Regions from separate parts of the Homo sapiens genome. Here region 1 is linked to region 2. Evidence: fine-mapped expression QTL. A gene starts in region 2. The other region holds a variant in brackets. All regions are shown on one strand. Distances are between the middles of the regions. Region 1 has its middle 26 kb from the start of AMOT. Region 2 holds the start of AMOT (angiomotin).

Region 1 (12,308 bases), 25 kb before region 2:
CTTTTCATTTCTTATTAGAAGAGCGAGCGAGAAGTATAGAAAACAAAAAACAGAGAAATGACACGATTAGTTAACTAGTAACAAGCAAACTAATAGCTAAATATTATAGACAACAAGAATAACTGAAGCTTAGAAGATCAGAAACACACATTCCAATCAATTATAACATCCTATTTCTTATTTAAATAACTGAGAGTAACTAGATATTAGTAGTGGTAAATAGGTAAATAGTTAACTAGAGATAACAAGAATAACTAGAGGCAGCCCCAAAAAACTGAAAAAAAAAAAAAAAACTGAAAAACACATTTCTCGCCAATTTAATTTATTACTCCCACTTTCTGAGCATTGTCCACCTCTCTATTTCCTCGTTGTTGTAATGTGTCCCCTATTAGGATACCCCATTGTTTCATTGTAAATCCTATCTGCTTCTACTGATGTTGAAGACCAATTCCTTCACTGGATGGCTACGTCCAAAACATCTGCTCCATTACTAGTTGGAGTATAATACTGCTAGATTGGTGCTCAGTGGTGGGCCACAGAGAGCCAGGTATGAAGTGTTGCCCTGTTTACACAAAAGGAGGAGGGGTTGCTGGAGCACAGACTATATCTGGGATACGGAGGGAGCCAGACGACCAGTTTGAACATGGCCATTATAGGAAAGTACATTTTCAAATGACAGCAACCCAAATTAAAGTCACTTGGGAAAAAAACCAAAATGATTGGGTTATCTAACTGGGAAGTCTAAGGTAGATATGGCATATTTGAGCCAGATGCTGAAATGATACCATCAAGAATATTTCTGTCCATCTTTTGCTTTCCTTTATTTGTTGGCCCCATTCTCTTCTCCTAAGATAGATTTTTCCATATGGCAGGAATGATGCCTGTTTGTGGCTCCCTTTCTTATTCTAGATTTATGACCTCAAAAGTAAGGCCAATTTTCTCTAGATCAAAATTGAAAATTTCAAGGAAGGAATCTGATGGGCTAAGCTTGGTCACATACTCAACCCAGAGTAATTAGTGTAGTTACAGAAATGGAGTTTTATGTTTGAATGGGCTTGGGTCAGCACCCAAGCCCTGTGACCAATGAGATAGAGCACTATGATTAGCAGCTGCCTCAACAAAATCACATGATTGTACAGCACAAGGAGCAGTTCCACCAAATGAGGTAAGGGTGCTGGACAGAAAAACCAGGTATATCCACTACAGCATCCAAGCGCTTGTAATCAAAGGTTTTTGAGCAGACAGGTCCAGACCTCTACTGAGATGTCCTCTGGGGGTTTGTCATGGATTGGAACTAAGCTTATTCTAAGGTATTGCTTGCTGAAGGATATTTCTGCTGTTAGAATATTTGTCAGGTGGTCATCTATGATGAAAACAGCATTGGAAACAGTTGGAATTGGAAGATACAAAGATGAAAACCACATTTGGTGTAGAGTGAAGTATTCTTGATAGATATGTAATGTGGTCAGTGTAAGAGACATCCAGTGAGGGTAGTAAGGCTACCTGCATATTTTGCTATAGCAGGTATAGAAATTGAGTCATTGCTCAAAAATCTGGGACTGATGTACGAAGATAAGTTTGTAATCAGTAAGATGTCAAAGAGAGACTTTCTAGATCCAAGAGCTGAATTTAGATAGAAAGCAGAACATTTACCTAAGGATGCATATTTGTGCAACCTATTTTTAAGAGAATCTAGTTTCAACGTAATGGATGGCATCATAGCCCCAAAGTCATGAGTCATCCATATCCATGATCAAATCCAGAATTATGAAGGCCCATGTTCAAAATAGTTTTGGATATATTAAATTATATAATAGATATTAAGTGCTTAACACAATCAGCACATTTTTTTTTTTTTTGAGATGGAGTCTCGCTCTGTTGCCCAGGCTGGAGTGCAATGGCCTGATCTCGGCTCACTGCAAGCTCCACCTCCCGGGTTCATGCCATTCTCCTGCCTCAGCCTCCCAAGTAGCTGGGACTACAGGTGCCCACCACCACGCCTGGCTAATTTTTTGTATTTTTAGTAGAGACGGGGTTTCACTGTGTTAGCCAGGGTGGTCTCGATCTCCTGACCTTGTGATCTGCCCACCTCAGCCTCCCAAAGTGCTGGGATTACCGGCGTGAGCCACAGCATCCGGCCACACAATCAGCACATATTAAATGTTCTCATAATAATGAGAGCCAATGGTTCTCTCATTATTATTATTGTGTGCATGGCATCATGCCAGGTATTTTAGATACATTATGTGACAATAATCCTATTTAGATCAATATTGTTACAATATTTTAAATAATTTGCTAAGATAACATAAATTTTTATTTGCAGAGTTGGAATTTAGCCTAGGTCTATCTGACTCCAAAGCTTGTGTTCTTACCATTACGCCACAGGGCTCCCATGAAATGCTGGTAACATCCTATGAAACCTAGAAAGACTAGGTACAACTGTCTACCACTTCCTACTTCCCACTGCAGTTTCATAAGTATTATTGAGACTTTAATGTCATCACTCTCCAGGATAGATAACTGATATTTCTTATCCATGACTTCTTAGACTACATTTCCTCTCACCTAGGTCTCTGAAAGACATTCAAATTGATATAAACATGAAAGGAAGATTAGAAGAAAACTACCTTCCAGACTGAATACAATGTGCACCAGTTCAGACACTGTACTATCCATAACAGCCTTGAAGTCTTTCAGAAATTCATGAAAGTTGTATTTCATTATGTACTAGAAGAGTGTGTGGTTATCAGTCTACTTTAGCAATAATGGGATGTACTCCAATGTTATTGCTTGAGTGAATAGAACATCACATTCTGGACAGATCTAGTGGGAGCATCAATTCTATAAAGAACTCCAGAAATGTCAATTTAACCTTCTAATGTCAGGTTTCTTACCTTGTAAGGAATTCAGATGTCAACTCCAAAATACCATACCATACTCTAAGCACCAAAAATATACCATGTAATACCTAGTCTTTCTAGGTTTCATGGGATGTTACCAACATTGCATGGGAGGCCCGTGGCATGTGGTTGCTATAACCAAGCCAAGACGCTACCTACACACTGTGCTTCTGTGTTTTATAGAACACTAGAGTCCCACCACACATTGATAGATAGATAGATAGATAGATAGATAGATAGATAGATAGATAGATAGATATTGCTAGGGAGAAAAGAAAATATATATGGTGGTCAAAATATCTGGGAAATAGTGGTTTAAATGTTCAATAGGGCCAGGTGCGGTGGCTCATGCCTGTAATCCCTACCCTTTGGGAGGCCAAGGCAGGAGGATTGCTTGAACCCAGGTCTATTGTCAAGACCAGCTTAGGCAATATAGTGAGACCCCATTTCTGCAAAAAAATATGAGACTTAGCTGGGCATGGTGATGCATGCCTATAGTCTCAACTACTAAAGAGGCTGAAGTGGGCGATAGCTTGAGCCCAGGAGGTCAAGGCTGCAGTGAGCCAATATTGTGCCACTGCACTCCAGCCTGGGCAACAAAGCAAGGGCCCATCTCAAAAATAAAAATAAATAAATAAATAATAAGTGTTCAACAGGTTTATTACTTATTAAATTCTCAGAGATTTTAACAAGCTTATGTGCTATAAATCTTTAGGAGAAGCATCTACTATGAACTGTTTTCAAATCCATTTGACCAGGAATTTTTTTGCTTGCTTGTTTTTGATGACTATGTGCTAACATACTACAGAAAACCAGTATGTTTCCATGAAATACAGTTTAGAGGATAGGTTACACACCCTCCCCAGGCCTTGCTGTGCTGAGTTCACTGATAGAGGCTGGGCTTCCTGTTTCCAGAGCACACTCCTGTTCTCTCACTGGCACAGAAACTCTTTTCTCCATTCCAGTCTTTATGGCATTAACCCTGACCTCTTGCTTAATTCTTGTCAGATTCCTCTCCTTGGGGACTGTCGATGATTAAGTGATAAAGTATGATGAGTAAATGACATGGCCTATGTTTTAAGAGGTAAATTACACATGTAAAACACTCAACGCACTGTCATTTGGCATATACTCAGTAAATGTTAGTTTCTAAATAGATGTCAAAGATTTCTTTAGCAAAGCCGACATCCATCCCAGACTTTTTCTTTTCATTTTATACACTTTGGTGTTATTTGGAATTTTTAAAGCCGCAAACTTAAATTACCCTCATTTTAAAAATTATAATAACTAAATAAGCCAATCACAAAGAAAAAAAGCACTGTGTGATTCCACTTATGTGACATACCTGGAGCATTCACAGAGGCAGAACATACAATGGTGGTTACCAGGGGACATGGGGAGGAGGAAGCATTGAGTTAGTGTTTAATGGGTATAGACTTCTATCTAGGCTTGCAAGACGAAAAGAGTTCTGGAGATCAGTTGCACAAAAATGTGAATGTACTTAACACCTCTAAGCTATACATTTAAAAATGGTTGAGATGGTGAATTTTGCATTATATGTATTTTACCCCAATTAGCAATTTTAAAAATTAAAATTAAAATAAATAAATGAAAACATGTCTCTCCCTTCCTCTTGTCCTGCTTAAAAGTCTGCTTACCCTTTGTCCCCCACTTAACCTATTTTCCATATTGCCACTGCAGTGGTAAATCTGACCACAGTACTCCCCATTAATCACTATAGGATAAAATGCCAAGTTTTCAGCCTGACATGCAAGGCTCTTTAACTAAAGCCCCTACCTAGCTCCATCTCTTAACACTGCCCCATTTTGTACCTCTGATCAAGCCACACCACATTGCTCTTTTCAAAATGTGGTATTTCATGACTTCTTGTCTCTGCCTAAAATGACTTCTCAGAATCCTTTGTATGCCTGCTGAACACCTCATCTTTCAAGACTAGGCTTAGTGTCTGCTCTGTGGAGCTTTCTTTGACCAAGCAGAACACTGCCTCTTTTGTATCACCGCTCTACCTGGTAGAGCACTCTATCACTGCAGGTAGCATGCGGTATTGCAATGGTTTGTTTATGTCTGCATCCCTCAGTAGACTGAGAGGACCTCAAGGGCTCATTCATGTTTATATCCCCAGGGTTTAAAGCATGGTGCCTGCTACATAGGAATTGATTAATACATGGTTGTTGAGTAAGTAAATGAATGTATAGAAGTGGAAGCACAGATCTGAGAATTTTTATCCCTATTTTCACTACTACTATCAATAAAAACCCACAAAAATCCTTAAAGAAACTGTG[T/C]GTTCTCAGGGTAGCAGGCAGACCAATACCTGGTGATAGAAAAGAAAAAGGGTGGGAGCAGCCTCAAATGCCTAAAAGTGTCTGCCTTCCTTCTCTTTTCCTGTTCCTGAAGAGATCACCACTATCTTGGAGTCAGGGTTTGTTCTCTTTCACACTGCCTGCCTGATAAAGGATTGAGTAAGGGTAGGGAACAGTGCTGGAGGGGAGCCACCCCAGGAAAGGGGAATTTATTCTGGTCTTCCTATGTTGGATCAGAACTGTTTTTCTTTTCTTTTTTTTTTTTATTTTACTTTTTCTGGTTACATGTGCAGAATGTGCAGGTTTGTTACATAGGTATACATGTGCCACGGTGGTTTGCTGCACCTGTCAACCCATCATCTAGGTTTTAAGCCCCGTACGCATTAGGTATTTGTCCTAATGCTCTCCCTCCCCTAGACCCCCACCCCACCCTCACAGGCCCTGTGGTGTGATGTTCCCCTCCCTATGTCCATGTGTCCTCATTGCAGAACTGTTTTTCATAGAAATGTTATTATATATGATGTACTTAAAGCTTTACTTCAAGCACATTATAGGTTAAGTAGCCTTAGGTGGACTGGTTTGGGAATATCACCATAATTTATAACATTGTTTATATAGGAAATTTGTTTCTGAGTTCAAAAAAAAACAAACTTTTGGAACTCGACATGAGGACTTCCTGAATTCTTTTTGAAAATACAATAAGTGTGTCAATAGGAATCCAGAGATTTATGAAAATGAAGAGTTTTAATTAGCGGAAAAGTGATCACGGCAATATTTAGCTGTAACACTGTAGGCATTATGACTAATTTATACCAATCCTATTCTGTGGTTCTCAAATTACCCATTATTACAACTAGTCTTAAACTCTATAACAAGGTAATTTAAATAAAGTTTTAAAATGCAAGTTCCCATTTTAAACCCAGTCTCATAAAGGTCCAGCATCCAATACAGCCTGTGTTGTGTCATACATGATGCCTGCAACTTGCTTTAGGACACAAGCAGCCTGTAAAAGCGATACACCCTCTCTCAAGCACTTTAACAGCAAAATGTCAGGCCATGAAAATGACTCACTAACTTACAGTTTGTCATCAGGGTAAAATATTCCCTGAAATGAAACAGTCTTCTGTAGGAACCCTCTGTATGTAAACAGATGCATCTGAAACCCATATGACCTATATGGTTATTTCTGGCCATTCCCCTTCCCACATCCAAATGTTTGTGATATATTACTATGCAGTTGAAGGCTGCAAGGCAATATGCATGATTTGAGAGGAAACAGTTCATTTACTGACACTACACAGAAAAGTTGAAGAAAGAGGCTTTCTTTAAAAAAAAAAATAGAAGAATCTAAAACTGCTTTTAAGAATCACCAATTTTCCTGTTACAAAAAACAATCATAGATATCTGTCAAATACTAATGACAGTCTGTCAATCACACCCAACCCCACCCCTCCCTGTTTTCAAGAGCTTGTCTTCTTATTGTAAAACTAGCTTTTAACTTTTTCCAAAGCAACAGAATTATATTGCTGCTACGTGTGACTGAAATGTGTGACAGGTTGTTTGGATTGTAATTCCAAGGTCCCAGTTATGACCTATCAGCTAATACACTCTCCTTATTCAATAGAGCCTTGTGTCTACATAATGTCAAACAAATGGCAGGGCACTAAACAAATAATGAGCTGATTTAGTAACCTGTGGAGTGTCTCAGGTTATGCTGCACAGTAGGTTGGCAACTTGAGATTATTCTGAGAGGCACAGTGAGGCCTGCCCCATGGTAATACTGTGATATCGAGCGATTGTCTGGGCCATTGTCCCACATCTTGTCTGGGTACACAGTACTGAACATGGTAAACACATTCATTCACTAAATACTTGAATGAACCCTGAGGAAAGACTTTTAGATCTTTCTGAGATGGACTAAACTCACCTAGTTTTTTTCTTATTTTAACCAACCGATTCACACACATTCCAAGGAATGAACTACTCAAACAGCAGCAATATTTTCTTACATGTTCCCCCAGGGAAATCTTAGGCTATGGCAAATTAAGAGAATTGCTCTGTCTGTCTGGTGACTCAGGGCACGGCTGGATTAAAAGAAAACGATATATTAAGTTTGGGTCCTGGTGAGAGCAGGAGTGGGAAATGGCCTGAAGTGTTCAGGGAAGGTAACAAAGAAAACATGGGCCTTGGGGCCTGCTTTTTAAAACAGATGACACTTGTCCTCTCAAACTCTGCTTCTCTCTACCTCTGAATTCATGAAAGCATCTTTCTCTCCAATCCCAAAACATGATGTACACCTAGCCATTCTCCAAGTTCAACCTTCCTGACTTTCCTATGAACATTTATAACACGTATTGTCACATTCAGCATGGACAACTCTACTGACTAATATAGCTAGTACCATGGCTTGTCTACACAGCTGGATCATAACCTACCTGAAGAGAGGGGCATTGTCCTCTATTTCTCAGGATAACTGTGCAGTGCTGGGTAACTCTTCTCTTCCTGCTCCTGTTGGATGTTTTGACTCTCTCTTTGCTTACTAACATGCACAGGACCTTCTCACTGATTAAAAAGACAACAACAACAAAAACATGACTCTGCCTTCCCTAATGTTTTATCATCAATCTTCTTCTTTTCTTACTGTATTCCTTTCCCTAGATGAGATCATCCACTCTCAGGATTTCAACCATCAACTATGAAGATGGTTTGTAAGTGGCAATCTCCAGCCCTGATTTTGTCTTAGAATTCCAGTACTACCTCGCAAAACTGCCCTATGACTTGCATAATTTTCTGTCATCTCATACTTGGCCTAGGAATAAAATCCCCCTCCAACATCCAAACTGGTTTTTCTCCCCTGACATTCAGATTTCTACTAATGGAGCATGAGTCTCCATATTATCATATTAAGTTCAGTTTATTTCAGCAAATATTAACTGGGTGCTTCCCATGAACAAGACATTGAGCTCAGAAATCTTGCTAGCATATTTAAATCTTTCCTCTCATTTTGTGTTCAGTCTAACCTGAAGCTTAGTATGTTCTTCCTTTGAAATGTCACCTGTATCCAAATCTTCCTCTCTATTCCCCTTGTCCCCCACCTCAGCAGTCCCAGGACTCATGTTCTTACTATCCCTGTGTTATTACAGCCTTTTGGCTAGTTTCCATGCCAGTATCTCTCTTTTCTCGATTGCAGTGGTTCTCAAACTTTGCTGAATATTAGGAATATCTGGGGATCTTCTTAAAATCTTAAGGCCAAGGCTATATCCCATACTATTAAGTCAGAATCTCTGAGGTTAGGAGCCAGACATCAATATTTTGTAAATCTCCCCAGTTGATTTTAATGTGCAGTCAGGTTTGAGAACCCATGATTATTCCTCTCTACTCACTGTTGCCAGGACATTTACAAACACTGCTTCATTACGCAACTTACTGGTTCAGAAACCTTTAATAACCCCCCATTGACCAATTTCAAGGCTCTTTACATTCTGATTCAATACTAGCTCATGAAACCTATGCCTTCCCACCTCAATGACCATCCACTGGAATGCCTTTCCTCTGCTTATCCAAATCTTATTTGCCCTTTAAGGTCCAGTTTATTTAAAAAAAAAAAAAAGCGTTCCCCACTTTGGGAGTCCGAGGCGGGCGGATCACAAGGTCAGGAGTTCAAGACCAGCCTGGCCAATATGTTGAAACCCCGTCTCTACTAAAAATACAAAAAAAATTAGCCGGGCATTGTGGCACACGCCTGTAATCCCAGCTACTCAGGAGGCTGAGGCAGGAGAATTGCTTGAACCCGGGAGGTGGAGGTTGCCGTGAGCTGAGATCGCGCCACTGCACTCCAGCCTGGACGACAGAGGAAGACTCCGTCTCAAAACAAAAACAAACAAACAAACTAACAAACAAAAAAAGCAGTCCCTGAGGAATCTAGACCACAATGATTATCTCCCCTCTGGACACTGAAGCACTTTTTGCCTATATAGTCCTTTCCTAACTATCACCTTGCAGTAATATTTTCTGCTCTTATGTCTCATTTTCAAACTAGTTTGTATGGTTTTGAGGACATAGTCTATATCTACCATATGACCCCTACTGTACCTACTGTACAGTGCTGCAGCGCTATGAAAATTATAGACATTCAATAAATATATACAATGGTTTATGTCCATCCAATCATAAAGAATATTTCAATCCACATGTAACTAATCTTAAATGTTTGTGCCATGTTGTAATATAATAAAATTAGGCAGTATGCTTAATATTCTCGACTTTTTTTTTTTTTTGAGACACAGTCTCGCTCTGTCGCCTAGGCTGCAGTGCAGTGGCGCGATCTTGACTCACTGCAGGCTCTGTCTGCACCCCCAGATTCATGCCATTCTCCTGCCTCAGCCTCCCGAGTAGCTGGGACTACAGGCGCCCGCCACCATGCCCGGCTAATTTTTTTGTATTTTTAGTAGAGACAGGGTTTCACAGTGCTCGCCAGGATGGTCTCGATCTCATGACCTCGTGATCCGCCTGCCTCAGCCTCCCAAAGTGCTGGGATTACAGGCGTCAGCCACCACGGTGGGCCAATATTCTCTACTTTTTGTCAGTAGACAGACGAACAGAAAAGAGGATATCTCTCTGAGATGGGGCTGCTTGTCTTGAATACCTCCTGACTGAGTATATTCAAAGGATGTAAATAGACTGCATGTAATAAACCCAAAGGAGGATATTAACAAGTCAACATTTCCTGTTCACGTGGGAATGCCAATTCCATTTATCAAAGATAGAAACATTATTCTTTTAGTCTGATCCTCCCTTTTCGGCTCCTCACGGCCCGAGACTATCATCACTAGTGGAGCCAAGAAAAGAGAGAAAACCCTCCCACTGACCTTCAGACCACTGGGTCAGAAAGTTAGGCTAACAATAAAGATTTTTATGTTCAGAAATGTTTAAATGGGCTATTTGTAACTGGAGGTAGCTATGGGTCACGTAAAAAGCAGGAGGCCTGGAGTCAGAGGAGCTGGGTTCAAATCCCAGCTCTGTCACTAAATAGTCCTGTGACTTTAAGCAAGTCACCAAGCCTCTCTGAAACTCAGTTTCTTCATCAGAAAAATGGGATGGGTAATAAATAGCATAGTATTTGGGAGATTATTAAATAATACATTATATGTGACTGTCCCTAGCACATAGTAGGTACTCAGTAAACATTAGCAGATTTGAATAAGAAGGTTAAAATAATCAGGCTGGGCACAGTGGCTTACGCCTGTAATCCCAGGACCTTGGGAGGCCAAGGCGGGCGGATCACTTGAGGTCAGAAGTTCAAAACCAGCCTGGCCAACATGGTGAAACGCCATCTCTACTAAAAAAAAAAAAAATTAGCTGGGCATGGTGGCGGGTGCCTGTAATCCTAGCTACTTGGGAGGCTGAGGCAAGAGAATCCCTTGGTCCCTGGAGGCAGAGGTTGCACTGAGTCAAGATCACGTCACTGCACTCCAGCCTGGGTGACAGAGTGAGACTCTGTTTCAAAAAAAAAAAAAAAAAGAAGGCTAAAATATGTTATTTGCACATTTAGCATCAAATGTAAATATTTTAACAAAAGGGAGCCATCCAGCTCCCCAAGAAAGATCCATACATTTTTAAAAATGAGCGTCTTGTTTGGAAATAATTTCAAACTTAGAAAAATTACAAGAATAAAACGGCACAAAGAATACTCACCTATACTTTACCCATGATAATAACCCTATTATAAACATTTTACCCCATTTGCTTTATCATTTTTATCTGTCTATCTAAATTTCCAAATCATTTGGGAGTAAATCGCATACATCACGGCCTGTTGCCTCTAACTGCTTTGATGTATATTTCCTAGCTATGAGCATATTGTCTTACATACCACAGTGCGGTTAATAATTTCAGCAATATCAACATCAGTCCAATATTTTATCTAGTCTACTAACTCTTTTCCAGTTTTGTCAATTGGCCCAATAATGCCCTCTATAGGATGTTGCTCCCCTCCCATATGAGATTCAGGCTAGGATAAGGTATTTCATTTAATTGTCATGTCTCTTTAGCCCCATTTTATCTGGAACATTTCCACAGCAGTCCTTTGTCTTTTATGACAATGGATGTTCCATAAATTTTAAAATTGAAACTGAGTACTTTCACAAAGTATAGCAGTTAAGGGCATAGACTCTGAGGCCAGACTGGCTGAATTAGAATCCTACCCCTGCCACCAATTATCTGTGTAACCTTAAGCAAGTTACTTAATGTCTCTGTGCCTCAGCTTTTTCATAAAAAATGGGGCTGATAATGCTACTTCATGGGGTTGTTGTGAAGATCAAATAAATTAGCACACATAAGACATTTGGAAAGTGCTTACCACATGGTAAGTGCTCAATAATGTTACATATTAATATTATTATAATTCCAATGCCAAATCAAACCTACCCAAATTTACTGAGTACCTCTTACATGCAAGGTATTTTACTAAGACCAAGTCATATGTACCACACCAATTACAAAGTCATAGAATGTTGGACTTAAAAAGAGCTTAACGATTATGGGTTCTTAATTTTTATTTTTATCACAGCCCCCAGAGAATCTGGTAAAAATCTATAAACAGACTTCCCTGCCTGTGCCCCCCCTCCCCCCGCAAACACACACACACACACACACACACACACACACACACACACACGGTAGTGGTTTGAATGGTTGTTCCCAGAAAGATATGTTCACATCCTAATCTCCAGAACATGTGAATGTGACCTTATTTAGAAAAAGAGACTTTGCAGATGTAATTAAATTAAGGATCTTGAGATGAGGCAATCATCTTGGATTATTCAGTCGGGCCCTCAATCAGGTGGCAAGTGTCCTTCTAAGAAACACACAGGCAAGATAGAAGAGAAGGAAGCAATGTGAAAATAGAGGTAGAGACTGGAGTGATATAGCCACAAGTCAAGACATTCTGGCAGTTACCAGAAGCTGGAAGAGGCAAAAAACAGACTCTCTCCTAGAGCCTCTGGAGGAAGCTTGACCCTCCTGACCCTTTGATTTCTGACTTCTGGTATCCAGAACGGTGAGAAAATAAATTTCTGTGCTAATT
Region 2 (12,308 bases):
GTGAAACTCTGTCCAAAAAAAAAAAAAAACCATTCCCTGGTTTAAATCAGAAACTGCTGGTAGAAAAAAGTAAACTTTGGTCAGTCCATTGTACAAAATATTACAAGTAATAATATCAGCTAATATTTGTATACAACTGTCATTTTACCTTTACAACCATCCTCTGACATAGATGCTGTCATTTTACAAATGAGGAAACTGATACTCAAAATTTGCCTGAAGTCACATAGCTAGTGAGCAATAGAATGAAGACTATGAAACTAAGTCCTTTTGGTGCGGAAGCCCATAGCTTAGCCTCGCACTGCCCTGTGGAGCAGATTTAGTAGAGAAGAGTGATTGCGAGGGCCTTACAGCTAGGTGCTTTTAAGCTCTATAAGCCACCAAGCAAACCCACTGTCCTACACCCTTGAATGCCCTAAGAAGAATGAATGGAGGGGCATGAAGAAATAAACTGTGTTAAGGGACTACTATATGCCAGACATCATGATAGGACCTCTAAATGTGTTATTTCATTTAATTATCAAAGAAACCCTTATGGTGGAAAAATTATTATCCCTATTTTACAGATGAGGGAATGGCAGTTCAGGCTGGTTAAGGAATCTGCCTCATTGGTAAGTAGTGGAGCTGTGACTTGAATCTAGGCTTGGGTGACTCCAAAAGTCTATACCCCTTCCACAGAGCACACCAAGGATGGCTTACTATTTAACCCTTCCCAGGTTAATATTTGCACTTTAACAAGGGTCTTTCCTGTGTGAATTTCACAGGACAGTGGCAGACCTGAAGAGAAGGCTGATTTGGGCCTGCAAGGTGGGCCTGCCTTAAATCACACTGGAATGGCATTGACCTACCTTCTCCCTGGAGTTCCTAAAGTGGGGCAGCGAGCCAGAGAAGATAAATCTCTACTGCAGTCACAGCCTTCTTCTCCTCCAACTGGGATAACAACTCTCAGACACTCTGGCAACTACAGAAACAGAGAGAGCTCTGAATCAATCAAGAGTTTATTTGCAAAGGGTAATGTCAGAGGATGAACTTCCTCTAAATCCTGCTAACTCTGTACATTTAACGTGTTTACTGGCTCAGGAATTTGATTTTCCTCTGACTTGCTTTCAGAGGTTTGTTTTTTACCATTGACTAAATTATATTTTCCCTCTCAGCCCACCACCTTTCAGGGTACAGACTGATGTACGTTCCTCAGCCTCCCTGCTTCCCTCTTGCTCCGGCTAACCTAGGAATTTGCAAATAAACCCTACTGAGAAGTATGGACAGTCTGGGCCTTTCCAGAAACTCAAGCTGCTGAAGGAGATATGGTATTTAGTTAAGCTGAAGTGAAGCCCTGCATAAATCATAAAGAGGCGAGCCCAGGTTACTCAAACAAGACCTTAGGAGGTGTTTGGGGAATAGACTTGTAGGCAGCTTTATTTTTCTACAGCCGATTTACTTCCAAAATGCTGGGGCCCACAAATACCCCAGGAGCAACTTGGCTCCCAAATGCTGGAGCAGGTCTTGGCCTTGGAGCACAGTTCTGGTGTTGTTTCCTGAATTCCCACATTGCTGTTTTCCACACATGGATCGGGCTTCAAACTTCCTGTGTCTGGACTGTGTGTGCATGCTGTGTGTGTGTGTGTGTGTGTGGTTGGGAAGGGTGGAAGGGGGGAGGGAGGGAATCCAGAAGGAAGAGCATTTAACTGAAGTCGTGTATTGCATATGTGTCCCTTTGTTCCTTTCCTGTTCAGATAAACCTGCTATTTTCTGATCAGCTGGCTTCTGCATGTACAGGGCTAGTGTGTCCTTATGAATAAATAGGAGGCTGACTTTTGGAGGTGTCCTGGAGAAGGCTGTTTCTCAACGTTTGTCTTTGGAGGAATTAAGGGGGACAGTTATGTATAGAGACATAAATCTTTAAGATTTATTTTTTCTCGTATACGTGCTTGCCTCTGCTTTTGTTCATAAATGCATTTAAATCATTTAGTTGTTCACTAGGCAACTAGAGGAAGATGTGCACATTCCATATTCCTGGTTCACTTGGTAAGTGGGGGAGAATGCCATTCAATGCAAAGCACTATGGTTTTATCATCTTTCCTTCAAGAAGAATCTGGCCAGGGATTGGGAATAGACCATAAGCTATACACTCCTTCCTACTTTTCCTGTACGTTGGACAAAAATATTGCACACAAAGGGAAGATTTTTTAATTAAGACATTTATTAGTTGGCAACATGAAACACTGGAGATTTTATATTAAAAACATTTGACTTCTGGTTTCTCTTGAAAAATCAGAAGCTGTGGTCACATTGGCCTGCATTTCCCTGTAGTGGTGATCAGGCTGCCCCTTTCACATGGGTTCTGCCTTCTTGCAACCCCTATCACTGGCATTGTCTCCTGACACTAAGCCTAAGGGTTATTAGCTTTTGTGTGTGTGCATGTGTGTTTGTGTGTGTGTGTGTGTGTGTGGTAAGAGATACGTAACAAAATTTACCATTTTAACAATTTTTAAGTGTACAATTCAGTGGCTTTAAGTACATTCAAAATATTATACAACTATCACCATTATCTAGTTCCAAACCTTTTCATCATCCCAAACAGAAATTGTACTATTAAACACTAACTTCCCACTCCCTCTTCCTCCAGCCCCTGATCACCACTACTCTACTTTCTATCTCTATGAATTTATCCATTCTAGATCCCTCATGTAAGTGGAATCATACAATATTTGTCCTTTTGTATCTGGCTTATTTCATTTTGTGTAATGTTTTCAAGGTAGACATTTGATTTTTTTAATGGATTTTATTTTGTACAGCACAGATATTGATTTTTATTGTGCAATAAAGGTGTATTTTAAGAAAAAAAAATAAAGGCCAAATAGGACAGGTAGTTTGGGATGTGGAATCTTGACTTCTGAGCTTAAAATGATCCTCCTTTTTTCCATATCGTTATATGGAGGTTTTTAATGTGTAGTATCTAGGCAACCCAGTGTCTTTACACAGGTGTTTTACAGCTAGTGGTTAATTCTCCTGGTCTCCCCCAGAGGGCTTTCTATACTTTATAGTCAGGATATGAAGACACAGGGATGCTGTGGGGATTAGTTAAATGTGTGTGGCACAGTGTGCTGTATAAACTAACTCTCTGGAACTAGTTTTCACTCTCTGCTCTTAACTTCCACAGCTTTTACTGTCAATACCATTCATTTGGCACTTAGCACATGCTTGTTAGTTGTCTTTTTATGTTTATATCCTTGAAGGCAGGAGCTAAGTCTCATGCCTCTTTGTTTTTTCAGTCTTGTCTATAATAGCGGCTCAATCGATGTTTGTTGATGTTGGCCTCCCCCTCCCCCTCTCTTTTAAGTAGTGCAGGCAATGCACAGCTTTAAATCCAAACTCGGTTTAAACAAACTGAAAGGTTTTCAGGGTGAAAACAAAGAAGTCTTGCATGGCAGGATAGAAGGCTTGGAAGACCTGGGTTAAACAGAAGTACCAAAAAGCTGTTTGCCACAGGTTAAGAAATGACTCACACACAGCCTGACTCACCATTAAGTTCAGAGTTCTGCTAACTCTACTCCATCAAAATTTGGAGAAGAGTAATGCCCAAGCAGGGTTTGAGGAGCGGATGTTAAACGAATTAAGTGTTTTAGAGGTTTCCATTGCTCCAATTCCATTGCTCCACAGTATAAGTCGCTGTGGGGAAAGGAAAGCATGTTAGAAAAGTGTTTTGAAGGCAACTTCAAGGCTAGGGGCAGGCATACTACAAATGAGCCACCAGGCCTTTGTTACCAGGATTTTTTTAAATAGCATCTTCCGTAGTAGCAAAAGATGGGAAATAGCCCAAATTTGCTTCCATTTTTTTTAGAGATAGAGTCTTGCTATGTTGACCAGGCTGACCTTGAACTCCTGGCCTCAAGGGATTCTCCTCCCTCAACCTCCCTAGTAGTTGGAACTATAGGCGTGTGCCACCACCGTGTCTGTCTCCCAAATCCCCATTTAATAAGGGGATGAGTAAAGGAATTTTGGCACAGCTATGCAATAGAATATTGAGTTATAATAAAATAAATAAGGTAAACATAGTTATCCTGAGATGGAAGAATATTTCAAATACATTGTTGAGTAAACAAATGCAAGGTGTGCCTTGATTAATGATCCCACTTGTAAGGAACAAAAAGGGAATATGCACTCATGCTTGAATATGCAAATAATCTATTTGGAAGATGACATACAGTCATAAAGAGAATGGGACTATGGGAGCAGAGTGGTGGAGAAGAACTTTTCACTGTAGTCTTTCAGTACCTTTTTGTTTGGTGTTTTTTGGTTTTTTTTTGACGGAGTCTCGCTCTGTCACCCAGGCTGGAGCGCAGTGGCCGATCTCAGCTCACTGCAACCTCCGCCTCCCAGGTTCAAGTAATTATCCTGTCTCAGCCTCCCGAGTAGCTGGAGCTCAGTGGCTGATCTCAGCTCACTGCAACCTCCGCCTCCCAGGTTCAAGTAATTATCCTGTCTCAGCCTCCCGAGTACCTGCTACTACAGGCGCATGCCACCACGTGCAGCTAATTTTTGTATTTTTAGTAGAGAAGGGGTTTCACCATATTGATCAGGCTGGTCTTGAACACCTGATCTCAAGTGATCCACCCGCCTCAGCCTCCCAAAGTGCTGGGATTACAGGTGTGAGCCACCGTGCCCAGCCCAGTACCGTTTTATCTGAATTCTTCCATGTGCATGTTTAACTTTTTTCACTTGGACAGCATTGATTTTAACAAATATCCTTTTGCCTCTGTGATTGGTAGTAGTCCTGCAGCATATACCCGCCCCCCCACATCTAGCTCTCCTGTCCACTCCAAATAACAAGGCTGAAATAACCTTTCCTTGCTTCACAAACCAGGTGTCTCCATATTTTGAACATTCAAAAACTCACTTTCTCCATGAAAAATCACCCAAATAACCTCACTTCATACATAAACAGAATCATAACGAGAATCATTTTGTGCACACTCCTGCTTCTGAATCTTTCCACAGCTCCTAGCAGAGCATGCTGCACACTCCATGACATGCAATAGTCCACTACTTTTCCTGCAGAGTTGGATTCTGAGCCCCTGTTTACTGTGTGATAGTGTTTCCTTTAAGCACACTTCCTCTTGCATGCCTTGATCCATGGCCCCCCAGATGGCTCCCATTAGGCAGGCTTGAATTGGATGTCACTCTTTCATTGGCATGAGCCATTATAATGGCCTTGCGCTGTCAAGGCGTTTACATTTAGGCTTGCTTCCTACTTGAAATGTTTTCTAGGAAATATGGATCTGTAGAGAATGGTGGTTTCCATGGTAAATGTTCCTTCATATTTGTTTTCTTAAGTTCACTTCGGAGATACACAGCATGATTTCCTCTTTCAGTACCAGAACCACAATAGCTTTAAGTTGTCATGAAATTGTAGAACTTTAAAAAAGAAATCTCACCCACCCTGCTTAGAAAAGGGGTAATTTATTATTCTAACTGCAGGGAGTCAACTTCATATCCACCCCCAAAATTGTAGGAAAAGAGTTGACTTTTTAAAATAAAGCCACAAAACCTACACGACCTTGGATGTAAATGCTTAAAACAGATGAGCAAAATATTGATCCTCTAACACATCTAAGACTCTCCATTATGTTTCACACACAAGTAGGAACACATACATGTGTGGAGTGCTTTATAGTTTTCACACACATTTTATTTTCATACCAGTGCCTTTAAGTTAATAGGGCATGTCTTACAGCATTTACTTACAGGTAGAAAAATTAAGGCTGAGAAGTTAAGCCACTTAACAGAAGTCATACAATTAGCTAGTAAGTGCCAGGGCCCCAAATGAATTCTTCCTTTGGTTCCAAATTCCATGTTATTTTGCTACCCTGACACTGTTTCTTTGTGCCTTCGTTTTTCTAGATGTAAAATGGTAGATTTTCCGTGTCCCAGGATGCTGTTCTCAACCCTCTCGTTTTTAACCAATGTCAGCTTTTTTCACAGTCAGCAGAACACCACAATGACACTTCATGTACTTTCCCCCCTCCTGATTTAATAAACTAAGGGGGAAGAAAAGTTACCTATTCGCAGAAAGCTGGACAGTGCCATAAACATAAAGGCGTACCAGAGTCGGCCGACACACTGTTGCACTCTTTTATGAGACTGAGAAATAAAGCGTCTCATCTTTCTCTTGCCAGCAGTAGCTGGGGTAGAACATAGAACTACACAATAGCCTCTTGTTTAGTTTTATTAATTTTGAGGGCGGGTGGGACAAAGGGATCAGACTGGCGACTCCAGGGCCCAATCGCAAGCGTATACTAGGCCAGGCTGGGCCAACCGGTAGCTGCAAAAGAATGGTGGGCGGGACTTACGCTTCAGGGACGCGCTCCGCCCAGGCCGGCGCTCCCAGCCCGCCCAGGGGCGGAGCCTCCGCGGAGCGCCGCCCGCGACCCCTCCTCCCTCGCCCCTCAGCTTCTGCGGCCCGCCAACGGGAGGGGGGCAAGCGCCCGGGGCGGGGGAGCGGAGGAAGAAAGGAGGGTGTCTCGCAGAGCTGTGACCTGGGTGGGGGCCTGCTGGTAATAGGAAGCAAGAGGGGAAGGAAAACGAAGGAGCGCTTCTCCTTCCTGCATTATTTTAAGCAGGCTTTGGTGGAAGCTGCTTTTCAGCATTTCTATTATTTGTTTTTCTTCCTCCCGCAGTGGGGCGGGGAGCTGCACTGGCTCTCCCACGCGTCTATGCCGCGCTGTTGCCGCAGATTATTATTGTAGTCTTTTGCAAAACCCTTTCCTTCTTCCCAGCCAGTCCCCGCGCAGACTCTCACGGCTACGGCAACCGAGTCGTGCCCCTCTAGTGGGAAGGCGAGAGCGAGGGTCCCTTGCTTTCGCCCGAGCTCCCGGACCCCGCGGTTCAATTGTTTGAAACTTCCACGCCCCCCGGCCCCGCCTCTCTTCCGCGCTCCCCTCACTCCTCACTTCCAGGGTCCAGGCAGGCTCCCGCCCTTCTTTCCCCGCCCTCTACTCCGCCTTCCTCCCTCGTCCACCCCTCCCGCCGCCCTGCTCCGGGGCGGTCCTAGCCGCTCACCGCAAGAAGAAAAGCCACCCGTTCGTCCCCCTCCCCTACCTCCCATCCTTTGCCCAGGAGCTGCCTTGGCAGTCACGCCCCTTCCTTCCGAGGAGCTTTCTGGCTGCCTAAACTGGTAGACCCCCTGAATTACTCCTCCATCTCCGCTCTCTTTCGCCTCCTCTTCTCTTAGTTCTCTCCGCCTCCCCCTCAACTACCACCACCTCCAGTCAGTCTCGCCTCCGGCTATCCGCTGCTCCACCCTCTGGCCCGGTATCCTGCCTGTCCGCTGCCACCAAGGAGAGCCCGGACGGAGCAGCGAGGAGGGGAGCAGCCGGGAGTTGGGGCTTCCCCCCTGCCCATCCCTGGCCGCTGGCCCGGGACCGAAGCCACTTGAGCGAGCAGAGAGTCGTCACCTTGTCTTCTTTGCCTTCAGGGGTAGGAGACGCGTGGTTACTTTTCGCGGGGAACTGGGGCAGGAATCCATGGTGGCATGAACTTGGTCGTGCCCTCGGCGTGAGTGAATCGATCTAGGCGCGTGTGGGAATGCCCGTGTGTTCTACTTTCTTTGCAGCTCGCCATGAGTTTTTTTGGATGTGCAGCAAGTTAAATCGGTTAGAGTGTGCGCTGCTTTCCCGTCCTACTTCGGTGAGGAGATGCTAGTGGGTACCACTACTAGATGGTACTTTTACTTCTTTACCTCCTGGGGTTCTTGTGGGTCTCTAGGTAATTAATCACATTGAGGAGCTAAAGACCCGAGGGAAGCTGAAATCTACATTTAGCCCAGCATGCATGTCAGTGCTTATCTCAGATAACTAGATAGGTTTCTGCTAAGTGCTTAGGCTTGGGGTGGGGACTCACACTCCCTGAGGCGGGAGCAGGAGGGGTAGGACCGTGAATTCTTGAAGTTTTAAAGTCTGTGTAATCTAAAACAAGGCTACTCTTTGAGATGTGTGGTGGTGGTGGTAGTGCTTGTGGTGGTAGTGATAGTGGTGGTGAGGAGGGAGTTGCCCCTATCTGCTTTAGAAGATCCAAAGATGTTAGTAAATAGTTTTGGGGGATCTTGAGGGTGTCTTGAGGGTCCAAGCCTGGGCCACTGCACATTGGTGCTTCAACAGTAAGATGGGCTTCATGGGTTTGTGAAAATGAAGAGAAAGAAAAGGGGGAGGGAAAATAACAGTCTTTAATAGACTGTGAGCAGTTCCTGGTAGATTGCCACTAATAATAATATAATAATTTGCATAAAGGGACTAAGTAGAATTAAATGAGCAAGGAAAGAGAAAGTTGGTGAGAAACAGCATTTTCAATCTCTAGTGTATGTTTTAGAACGAACTTTTCAACAACCTGGGATGTTTAGTGCATGAAGTTCTCCTCCCTCCCCGCCATGAAGAGTGGACGTTGGGAGGCAGTTTAAAACTTTTATGAATATAACCCTCTTCTCCCATTCAGAGAAGAAGATAATTAGTCACCATAATCTTCAATGATGAAGGGCTAAGGATATTTAAGTCTCCTTGAGCTAGGCTTTGTGAAAAGTTCTTTCTCAGGCCAGCCTTTGTGAAGCCTTCTCAGTTAGACCTTTCAGCACCCTCATTTAGTAGCTAAGAATAGTTTGAAATGCCATTTTGGATGTGGTATACATTTTCATCCATCTCCCACCTATCTTCAATTGGACAAGTGCGTCAAGCCTGTAAGTGATGGTGTTCAAAGACTTATTACTGAGATGTCCTTAACCCATTGCTTATTTGGGAACACATTATTAACATACATTTTAAAATAACTTTGGTTGATTTTAATGAGTGAAAGGAAAGTAGGAAGGTAGAGAAGGGCGACAATTTTAAAGGCTATCCTGTTTCAGATCAGCTGGGAGGGAAAAGCTGGCCTGACCAAACTACATTTTATAACTGGCCTGGGACATTTTAACAGCCAGGTGGTTGTAGAGTAGTTGCCTCTATTTACAGATGATAACTAAGGTTCCAACTATTCTGTATGGGTTTATCCGGCGTCATTGACAGACACTTTCTGGCACTACATCATACTTCATTTTAAATTACTTCTTTCCTTGGAAAAGTTCGTGGCTTTGTAAAATTGTAAGTGCTTTTTCTACCTTCACAGTCTAGATGTGAAGTAAACCTCTGACCACAATTGTATGTGGAGTCACTTTTACATGAAATTTGTGGATCTGTTTACCTATTTAAAAGATTTTAGAAAGGGAATTTTAATAATTCATAGTCAATGCAGTTTTGGATTTGGAAATTAAAATTTCATTTCTGGTTTATGAAGTTTGATTTATTAGACTAATTCCCAACAAGGACATTTGTAGAGTTGCTTTTTCTTTCTGAGGTTTTGTAAAGACTGCATCAGACTCTAGAATGCTTTAAGAATAGCCTAATCAGAAGGCAGGGGGATGGATACTATGACCTTGAGGTCCCATTGAGTGCCAGAATTCTAAGTGGGTACATCTGCTTCTGTGCCTCTCCCAAGAGCCCTCTCCCAGGGCCTGCGCCTTCTTTAAAAGGGTGTCTTTGTAATTAAGCGGCCCTTCTTCCCCATCCCCCTTTCTTCCTTTGATCCAGCTTTTTAAGGCCTTTTTTTCCATTTGGAGACAAGAGGGGTTTCTCACACTTTCCTGTTCCCCTCTTAACGCTTCTTTTCCTTTACCCCAGAAAAGTCCCCTGAAGTTCTCAGGATGGTTAGAAGTTGTTTTGTTTTGTTTGGGGCGTGGGGGTGGAGTGGGGGAGTTGTTACCAATGAGGAGGAATAGAGGATATATTCCCTCTTGGGAAATGCTTGTGACCAGGTAGCCTCCTCCATGGAGACTGAGCATTTGGAATGCATGAGAACAGTCTATTCTTGGGGACTGTCTGGTAGAAATTGTCCTTTGCACCCATTAAGCCCAGCTTAAACACTGAAAGGGGTGGGGAGAGGTGTGTGTGGTCGTACTGGAGCCTTTTAGGATGGTAAATGGGTAAATGTTTCCAAATCTCCTATTACATCATCTCTTTCTCCCATGGATTCAGTAGGTTTAGTGATCTGCTTGACAAGTTAATTAGCTGGGGACTAAACCAATTTGTTTAGAATTGTGATCCATTGATTTCCTGTCCCCAGGAATTTTTGTTGGTGTTTTACTATGATGTGTTGTCTTTAGTCTTACTTACTTTTCCCTCCTTGCTGCCTTTTGTGGACTTTGGTCCAAATTCTAGGGTTCCACCCCCAAGTCAAAGGTTAGAATTTTGTCCCAGGAACTAAGGGGGTATTAAACAGGCTGGCCATACTGCATTACTCTCCTCCATGGTGGGCTTCTGACCCCTTTTAACCCAGAGAAAGGAGGGAAGTCGCCCCTTCCACACACAACACACACAATCTGAACAAAAAAAAAGAAAAAGAAAAAGAAAGAAAGAAAATAGGAGGTCATTTGCTTTATAAAAGAATCCACAACAGGTTTTCTTTGTAAGTACTAGCTTTCCTAGTTAGTGCCTTTAAACTATGACTTGATATATAAAAATTCACTCTAACTGGGCCTTCTCGGAAGCATATTTATTGCATAAAGGAATACATAAGAATTTGTAATGATTATCGCTTAAATTAAGTGAGGCCATTATTTGGCCTTTGAAATCTTTTTGTTATATGGAATGGAGTTAGTTAATTGTCTAAATCATTCTGGCTTGTAATAATGCTGGCCACGTTAGCTCTGGCCTACAACTGCTTGCAGAAGAAAGCTAGTATTACTTTTTGAAAATAAATCAGACTTTATAGATTTTGAACAATTCTAAGGATGAGACTATCCACCCCATATAGGTAAAATGTTTTATTTCCAGCTACTGTATTTGACTAACCCAGGGATCCAGAAAGTTATTTCTAGTAAATAATGGCGACTGATGCCACTTTAACCTAAGAATCTGCAATAAGATTTCCTAGTGAGCCTATTGGTGAGAAGGACCTGGGCTCTAGGCCCAACTGTAACTCGGTTTACTACCTCTGTTAAGTTTTTTTTTTTCCACTGTAAATTATGGGTTTGGACAGGGTAATTTTGAGAGCCAGTTCTTATACGTTTATGGTTTTCTTTCTAGGCCTCAATATCTAGTATGAATGTGAATGATTGCTACTAGAATGAAGTGCAACAGTTGTTAGAAATTCAATCATCTAGTCATCATGTTAAAGAAAAAAAGATCCTGTAAGGATATATGAATATAGATGCATTATGTTTTACATTTTAACAACCCAAAATTAAGAAGCTAAGACTCTGTCCAAAACTTCAAGAATTCCATCATCCTAAGAGATCACCTGCTTTCATTTTTTCTAGTTCCTTTCAAGTCCTGGTTCCTGTACTAACATGAGTTTTAGATAATTGGAGCCACAGATATATACAATGTTGCTTTTCAATAAGAGCCCACCCAAGACTTAACTTTGTGAACCCATGTGGAGGAACTAAGTCAGAATCTGACCGAGGACACATGAAGACTCCCATATATTTTGTTTCTCAAATGCCAGGAGAGGCTAATGGATATAATAAGTAATCCCTAAACACTCTCTGTGATTCAGGAGTTGTTCATGTATCTAGCAAGGCTGTTAATTTAATTCCTTTGACCTCCTGTTATCCCTCCCCCATTCTTGTTAACAACAACAACAACAAAACTAGGGTCCACTGTTTACTTTGTGTAAATCATTGGCAATGATTTTTAAGTCACTGTATGGTGAAATCCCATCAAGTGAGTATAAATTTGAGTGGAATATGAAATCTCCAGAATGAGAAAGGAGAAGCAGGAAAGCACAAATATACTTGTTTTGTAGCATGGAAAATAATATGTTTAAATTAGACTAAAAGATAGCAAAGAAACTAAGGATTTTAGACAGTTAAATAAAAGACAAGAAGTGCAGCAGCAGAATGGCCCACACATAATGGGTTCTTCATCTGAGGTCTTCACCATGTAGTCAAATTTCATAGTTCTTTAATTTTCCTTTGATAACAAAGGTGTGGTATACATGTGATCTCTAAGATTTGATGGATTAGCCAGGCATGGTAGCTCACACCTGTAATCCCAGCGATTTGGGAGGCAGAGGCGGGCGGATCACCTAAGGTCAGGAGTTCAAGACCAGCCTGACCAACATGGTGAAACCCCTGTCTCTACTAAAAATACAGAATTACCTGGGTATGGTGGCGCATGCCTGTAATCCCAGCTACTCAGGAAACTGAGGAATAAATTGCTTGAACCTGGGAGGCGGAGGTTGCAGTAAGCCAAGATCACGCCATTGCACTCCAGCCTGGGCAACAA

Evidence for each region. PIP is the estimated chance that this variant, and not a neighbour inherited with it, causes the effect. A credible set is the group of variants that fine-mapping cannot tell apart.
Region 1: its variant is the best candidate, but not a certain one, in a credible set for the expression of AMOT in whole blood (TOPMed, PIP 0.52).

Annotation. Positions count from the first base shown.
Region 1 is chrX:112,860,379-112,872,686 of GRCh38, reverse strand. No RefSeq gene overlaps it. Among named protein-coding and RNA genes, the nearest start is that of AMOT, 26 kb to the right of the region's middle. The variant T/C (reference allele first, on the strand shown) is at 5,207.
Region 2 is chrX:112,835,620-112,847,927 of GRCh38, reverse strand. It overlaps AMOT (angiomotin), which reads left to right and starts at 7,097. Exons shown (of 14, transcript NM_001113490.2): 1 at 7,097-7,476. LOC107985651 (a long non-coding RNA gene) reads right to left here and starts at 6,202. Exons shown (of 3, transcript XR_001755993.2): 1 at 6,060-6,202; 2 at 3,523-3,669; 3 at 849-961. RefSeq lists a silencer at 6,252-6,591.